Linked DNA regions of Homo sapiens. The protein of the gene in region 1 purifies or fractionates together with the protein of each later gene. This does not show direct contact. Each region holds a gene or a part of one and is shown on either strand. Other genes may lie near its edges.

Region 1 (3,748 bases):
CAGTTAAAATACTCCAACAAAAAGCAAGCAAATGTATTAAAAATCTAATAACTTTTAGGTCAAAAATAATGATAAACATCCGCCTTTAAACTAGAATAGCCTAGCCTTTATTTGATTTAGTGATGGTATGCATTCAATGATTCCCTTTTAAGTTATACCTTTTAATGATTGTCACAAAGCATATCAAAGTTCTAAGTAGAACTGTCAACAGTATATCAAGTTTATCAAATTAAAGTTTGCTAGTATTCTTCATGAGACTCCGAAAAACTTTTTCATATGATAAATTCAACTAAAGCAAGTTTCATTCCATAAAATACCCTGGAAATAATTATGTATTCTACCTAAATAAAAAAAGAGATTTCTCTTTTATTTCGCAATATAATATGTTCTGCCCAAGATATTTTTTTAAAGGTTGCGCTTAGCAAAACCTGATTCTCCCAATGAGTTCAACAAACTTTTAAAACCCAAACTAAACTCACTTTTAGACTTTCAGAACTACTTGCTGATTAAAATGCCTAAGAAACTTTTAATTTTTAAAGTTTCAGTGAAACAATTTCACGACAACAAATCTAGTATTCTATGTTTTCCTTTCTCTTCAATTTTAAACATTTACAGACCATAGGAGTATATTAACTGCAGGATGCCTTGAAAAAGAAAGAAAAAAGACTGAGCGACTGATCTTGTGGAAATGATTTAAGGTGACACTTGCAGTACTTTTTTTTAAGGGATCAAGCAGGGGAGACCTCTTGTTTGTACAAGCTTTTAGCTTCATAACTGGCTTATGCTAGGGAATATCATAGCCTGCTTAAGAATGACTACTGGGGCAGGAGGAAAAAAAGCTAGAAAAAAAGAGAAGGCAGAGTGGCTCTGATGGAGGGCAAAGCAACTGCGGACGAAGAGGGGTCTACCTGGTTCACAGCATCCGTGATGATGGTGGTCAGTCTGACAGTATTTGTCCCTTAAAGGCATTTTCAGTGGACTCGACCTACTTTGCTTTCACTGTAAGAAGCTCTTCATTGCGGCGTGGCTGTTGAAAGAAGCACAAACCCGTCACTCGCCCTGAACTTCCTGGGGGGCACTGGCTGCATTTTCCAGATACGTTCCCATCATCAGCTCTCCGCTTTCCCTCCACGGACCCGCACCTCCCTCTCGAAAAGAAAACAGAAAGACGCACAAACCCTCCTGCAGCCCAAACTCCCCACACAGGTTCATCGCCCTACCCGGAAACGCAGCCTCGGGTGCGCAGCGCAGGGCGAAGGCCTGGCCGGCAGCGCGGGCGGCTGCGGCCTCGCCGTCCCGGGCGGGCGCGCGGAAACGGAGCGCAGAGCGCGGCGGGCACCGCCGGGCTCCGGGACTACGGAGGTGCCGCTCCCGCCGGCTGCTGGCCCACGCCGCGCCCTCCCGCTACGCACGTGCGTTGGGGTCTCCCTGGCGGAGACCCCGTCCCCACAACCAAGTGCGCCCAACTTACTCAACTCTTAGGGCGGGCCGGCGGGCGGGCGGAAGGAAGGAAGGCAGGCCGGGCGGCCGCGGGGACAGCCTGGCGTGGGAGGCGGCTGCGGGCCCCACCTGGCGCAGCCTCCGCTGACCACGCGGGGGAACCCGGACTCGGGCCCGACGCGCTCCCAAAGAGTCCCCGCCGGCGCTGACGCGGAAGCGCCACAGCTCACCACGTCCCTCCGCGGGCCGAGACGACTGCGGCGGCGGCTCACGGCGTCCTCCGCGCTGTGTGGCTAGGCGGGAGGCGCGCGGGCGGAGGCAGTTGACAGGAGGAACCGCCCGGCAGCAGCTGCCGCCGCCACCACCGAAGGAGCCGGAACCGGAGCGGGCAGGACCTGAGGCTTCCCTCGCCGGGGCAACGGCTGCCGCCGCAACCCGGGTCCCACCAGCGCCGCTCCACCTGCAACGGTCCCTCAGGCTTTAGGAGAGGGGCGGAGAAAAATGGGGGTCTCCCCCAACCTTGGGCCTTTTCGGTGGTAGTTGTTGTTTCAGGAAACTTTATTAAGTCAGCCTCTCTTTTACTCTGTCGCCCCCTCCTCCGGAGAGCCCGAGCTACCGCCGCGGAGCGCGTAGGAAGGGGGAAGCAGAGACTCTCCGGCAGCGACAGGGAGCGACTGACTGACCCCGGACGGAGATGGGGCGAGGGCAGGAAGTGACAAGCTCACCGAGTGGGTGGGGGGAGTGTGGCCGGCACGCCCGGGAGCGCCGCGCGCATGCGCCCGGCCGGCGCCCCCGCCTGTGGGTAGGCGACGCGCTGTGCCCGCCGCGGCCGGTGGGGAGGGGACCGGGGCCGCCGGCGCGAGGGCCGTGTCCGAGGGGAGGGAACCGGGGCGGGGGACACCAGGGCCGCGGCCGGAGTCTCGGGCCGACCGAGAGCCGAAGCCCAAAGTGAGGTGTGAGGCCCGCGATGCGGCGTGCGCGCCCACGGAGACGGGCTGCTCGGCCACCAAACTGTTGCTCTCGCTGTTCTCTGTTCAGTGGAACTGAAACTCGGGGAGGGTTGGGAGAGGACTTAGGAAGCGGTGGGCAGATGTATGAGCCATAAGTAGTGATGATCCCCAAAAGGCTGTCAGTGCATTGCTAAATGGCAAAAGTTGAACATTTTTTTCCTGCCAACAATTTTCGAAGCATGCCTCCCGGAACTTGGGGATTCTTTTATCAGGCCCAAGGGAGGGAAAGCATCTATTGGTAGCAGATGGGTATTTATCCTGGCAGCTCCGCTTCTCAAACTTGAAAGTGGAGTTGGGTCACGTGGGCTCACGCACTTTCCCTCCTCTTCTGCGCCCCGATCCTGCTTGGAAAATCCTCGAAGATCCCAGTCATCTGTCAAATTCTGCCAACCAAGGGCCGCTTCTTGGGGGCGAGAGAGCCGCCTCCGTTGTTTCCTCCCAGCTCCTGGAACGTAATTCTTGCTCTTGGTGACATCAAGCAAATATGTGTCCACCGCCCGTCAGGAAATTTTAAGAGAATAAAGCCCATTCGCCTTGTCTCCGATCCTCCCCAAGATCCACTGAAAACCTTTCCAGTTGGTCCAACTTAAGCTGCCATTGTGCGGGGTCCTGAAAAAACTGAAGTTCAGTAGATAGACTTTGTTTAGAAGAGAAAAAGTTCAGTTTTCAAAATCCAAAGGAAAGTTTGTAAATTGATACATTTGTTACTTTAAAAATGTTGGGCCAGGCGCAGTGGCTGGTGTTTGTAATCCCAGCACTTCGGGAGGTCAAAGCGGGAGGATCGCTTAAGCCCAGGAGTTAGAGACCAGCCTGGCAACATGGCAAAACGCCCTCTCAACCAAATAAAAAAAAATTAGCCGGGCAGGATGGCGCGTGCCTGTGGTCCCAGCTACGGGAGAGGCGGGGGCGGGGGGCGGGATGGCTTGGGTCCAGGAGGTGAAGCGTTTGCATTAGGTCTCCGGGGATTGCAGCAGCTTGATTCTAGGGGATGACAAGAAAGGGATAGAAACGTGATCTTTAACTAGTCACATAAGTGGTATGATCATATATATCTGTCCCATAGTTAAGAGGCATCACCCAACGTGAAACTAAAATATGAAATGCCACAGTTTATAAATTAATGTAAAATAAGTTATGATACTTCTGTGATAGTGTTTGTTATGCAGCCAATAAAAATCACATTTTATATAAAATTTAGTTGTATGGAATATGCTTAAGCAACAAAAAAGAAGTATTTTGAAATGTGATATTTTAACAGTGGGCTGTAACAGTGCAATTATGAATGATTTTTATTTTAT
Region 2 (3,748 bases), on another chromosome or scaffold:
AAAGAGCAAGGGGTGAGGGGTAGGACGGACACAAATAAACGGTCCTCCTAAGGTGGTTGCAGGGAGAAACAGCCAAAAGCCCATTGTGCTTTGTGCCAAGTAAGCAAGGCAGAGCTCCCACCTGCTTTCAGCGAAAGTGGAGGTCAGAGAGGGGCAGTGACAGCCAAAGAATATAGGGTCTCATAGGTCAAGATTTCTATTTCGATGTAATTAACTTTCTAATTAAACTGATATGGTAAATAGTTTAGAGTTGCCTCAATTCTTATACCTTACATCAATAACATAAAAGATCAGAATCACATGCCAACAGTTCCCATCCACGGACTGATCTACACTTGAGGCCATTCTCTTCACTTGGTGGTCTCAAAGACTAAATAATTTTTTTTTAATGCAAAGGCAGTCAGCCTGTAATCCCAGTGCTTTGAGAGACCAAGATGGGGGACTGCTTGAGGCCAGGAGTTCTAGATCAGCCTGGGCAACACAGTAAGACCACGTCTACAAAAAATTTAAACATTAGGCGGGGTGCAGTGGTTCACGCCTGTAATCCCAGCACTTTGGGAGGCCAAGGCGGGTGGATCACTTGATGACCAGCCTGGCCAACATGGTGAAACCCTGTCTTCACTAAAAATACAAAAAAATTAGCTGGGTGTGGTGGCAGGTGCCTGTAATCCCAGCTAATTGGGAGGCTGAGGGAGGAGAATCACTTGAACCTGGGAGGAGGAGGTTGCAGTGAGCCAGGATCTATGCTACTGCACTCCAGCCTGGGTGACAACTAACATAGGCAAATGCAGTAGCACAGTTATTTTGAGAAAAGGAGGCCGGGCATGGTGGCTCACGCCTGTAATCCCAGCACTTTGGGAGGCCGAGGTGGTAGATCACCTGAGGTCGGGAGTTCGAGACCAGCCTGACCAACATGGAGAAACCCCATCTCTGCTAAAAATTAGCCGGGCATGGTGGTGCATGCCTATAATCCCAGCTGCTCAGGAGGCTGAGGCAGGAGAATCGCTTGAACCCAGGAGGCAGAGGTTGTGGTGAGAGGAGGTTGCACCATTGTACTCCAGCCTGGGCAAGAACAGCAAAACTCCGCCTCAGAAAAAAAAAAAAAAAGCCGGGCGCGGTGGCTCACACCTGTAATCCTAGCACTTTGGGAGGCCGAGGCAGGCGGATCACAAGGTCAGGAGATCGAGACCATCCTGGCTAACACGGTGAAACCCCATCTCTACTAATAAATAATAAATAAATAAATAAATAAATAAATAGCCAGGCGTAGTGGCAGGCTCCTGTAGTCCCAGCTACTCGGGAGGCTGAGGCAGGAGAATGGTGTGAACCCAGGAGGCGGAGCTTGCAGTGAGCTGAGATTGCGCCACTGCACTCTAGCCTGGTCGACGGAGCGAGACTCCATCTCAAAAAAGAAAGAAAGAAAGAAAGAAAATGCTGGGGCAGTGGCTCACGCCTGTAATCTCAGCACTTTGGGAGGCCAAGGCGGGTGGATCACCTGAGGTCAGGAGTTTGAGACCAGCCTGGCCAACATGGTGAAACCCTGTCTCTACTAAAAATACAAAAATTAGCCAGGCATGGTGTTGGGCGCCTGTAATCCCAGCTATTCGGGAGGCTGAGGCAGAAGAATTGCTTGAACCCAGGAGACAGAGGTTGCAGTGACCGGAGATCATGCCATTGTACTCCAGCCTGGGCAACAGAGCAAGAATCCATAGCAACAACAACAAAAAATTAGCCAGGTATGGTGGTACATGCCTGTAGTCTCAGCTACTTGGAAAGCTGAGGCAGGAGGACTGCTTTGAGTCCAGGAGTTCAAGGTTACAGTGAGCTATCATCATACCAATGAACTCCAGCCTGGGTGACAGAGTGAGACCCTGTCTCCCTGTCTCTGGAATAAAATAAAAATAATGCAAATTCCCTGGGATATTCCCAAAACAAACCAAGGTCTCAAGGCTCTTCAAACTAAGAATGTCCTAGGTCAGGCTTGCCTTCTCAAGACAAAACTGAACAAGTTACCAGATGGCATTTTGAGGGAAAGGTATTAGCTAGACAGACTCAAAGATTTTAACACTATGAAGTCTCATAAACCACACAACCCTCAGAGAAGTCTGGAGGAAAACAAAGCATCATTAGAAAATCGGAGGAAAACAAAACATCATTAGAAAATCCATGGTCCATGCAGCTTGACTGCTTTCTGGTACCTCCATTATAAATCCTGGCCAGGCGCAGTGGCCCACACCTGTAATCCCAGCACTTTGGGAGGCTGGGGCGGGTGGATCACCTGAGGTCAGGAGTTCAAGGCCAGCCCAACCAACATGGTGAAACTCTGTCTCTAATAAACACACAAAAAACAGCCAGGCATGGTGGCGCATGCCTGTAATCCCAGCTACTTGGGAGGATGAGACAGTAGAATCGCTTGAACCTGGGAGGAAGAGGTTGCAGTGAGCCAAGATTGCGCCATTGCACTCCAGTCTGGGCAACAAGAGTGAAAACTTCATCTCAAAAAACAAAAAACAAAACAAAACAAAAGTTTCTTCTCCTGCAATCATAAGGCTTCTTTTGTCCTAATAAACGACCATCTCGGACAAATCTTAATGTGAAAATTTTAATTGGGCCAAAGGTACAAAGCTACTTTATATTTATTACACCAAAACCATAATTTTTTTTTTTAATTTCGAGACAGTCTGTGTTACCCAGGCTGGAGTGCAGTGATGCAATCACAGCTCACGGCAGCCTTGACCTCCTGGGCCCAAGCAATCTTCCTCAGCCTCCCAAGTAACTGGGACTACAGGCATGTGCCATCATGCCCGGCTATTTTTTTTTGGTAGAGGCAGGGTTTCCCTATGTTACCCAGGCTAGTCTGGAACTCCTGGACTCAAAGGATCCTGAGGCCTCAGCTTCCCAAAATGTTAGGATTACAGGTGTGAGCTACCACAGACAATTTAGCCTAGTCCAGAATTTTTTTTTTGAGACAGTCTCACTCTGTCACCCAGGCTGGAGGGCAGTGGCGCGATCTCGGCTCACTGCAAGCTCCACCCCCCAGGTTCACCCCATTCTCCTGCCCCAGCCTCCCAAGTAGCTGAGACTACAGGTGCACACCACCATGCCCGGCTAATTTTTTTTGTATTTTTAGTAGAGACGGGGTTTCACTATGTTAGCCAGGATGGTCTCGATCTCCTGACCCCGTGATCCGCCTGCCTTGGCCTCCCAAAGTGCTAGGATTACAGGCGTGAGCCACCGTGCCCAGCCAGCCTAGTCCAGAATTTTACAAATTCCCTTCAATTTTTTTTTTTTTTTGAGACGGAGTTTCACTCTTGTTGCCCAGGCTGGAGTGCAATGGCGTGATCTTGGCTCACTGCCACCTATGCCTCCCAGGTTCAAGCAATTCTCCTGCCTCAGCCTCCCAAGTGGCTGGGATTACAGGCATGCACCAACACACTCAGCTAATTTTGTATTTTTAGTAGAGATGGGGTTTCTCCATGTTGGTCAGGCTGGTCTCAAACTCCCAACCTCAGGTGATCCGCCCGCCTCGACCTCCCAAAGTGCTGGGATTACAGGCGTGAGCCACCGCACCCGCCCAGCCAATTCCTTTCAATATTATGTTCCCTAGCTTCCTCCTTCTAAACCTGGAAGAGGAAAATATTAATTCACTAAAAAGGGAAAAATACACATTATGACTCTAAACATAAAAAGGGTCTGAGTTACATAAGTGAACTGCTCTTTCAGAGGCTCTAAGCAATTTGAAAATATC

The links. The genes of interacting proteins can lie anywhere in the genome.
Region 2: the proteins of ZNF800 (region 1) and MTA3 purify together in Homo sapiens (affinity purification with mass spectrometry; 2 studies listed by BioGRID and IntAct, with this or other methods). This does not show direct contact.

Annotation. Positions count from the first base shown.
Region 1 is NC_000007.14:127,390,589-127,394,336, forward strand, and holds the start of ZNF800 (zinc finger protein 800), read right to left. Parts: upstream 2,121-3,748; 5' UTR 1,472-2,120; exon of another isoform or gene 1,221-1,471; intron 1,028-1,220; 5' UTR 970-1,027; coding exon 909-969; intron 1-908. UniProt on the Homo sapiens protein: May be involved in transcriptional regulation.
Region 2 is NC_000002.12:42,571,494-42,575,241, reverse strand, and holds part of MTA3 (metastasis-associated protein MTA3), read right to left. Parts: intron 1-3,748. UniProt on the Homo sapiens protein: Acts as a component of the histone deacetylase NuRD complex which participates in the remodeling of chromatin.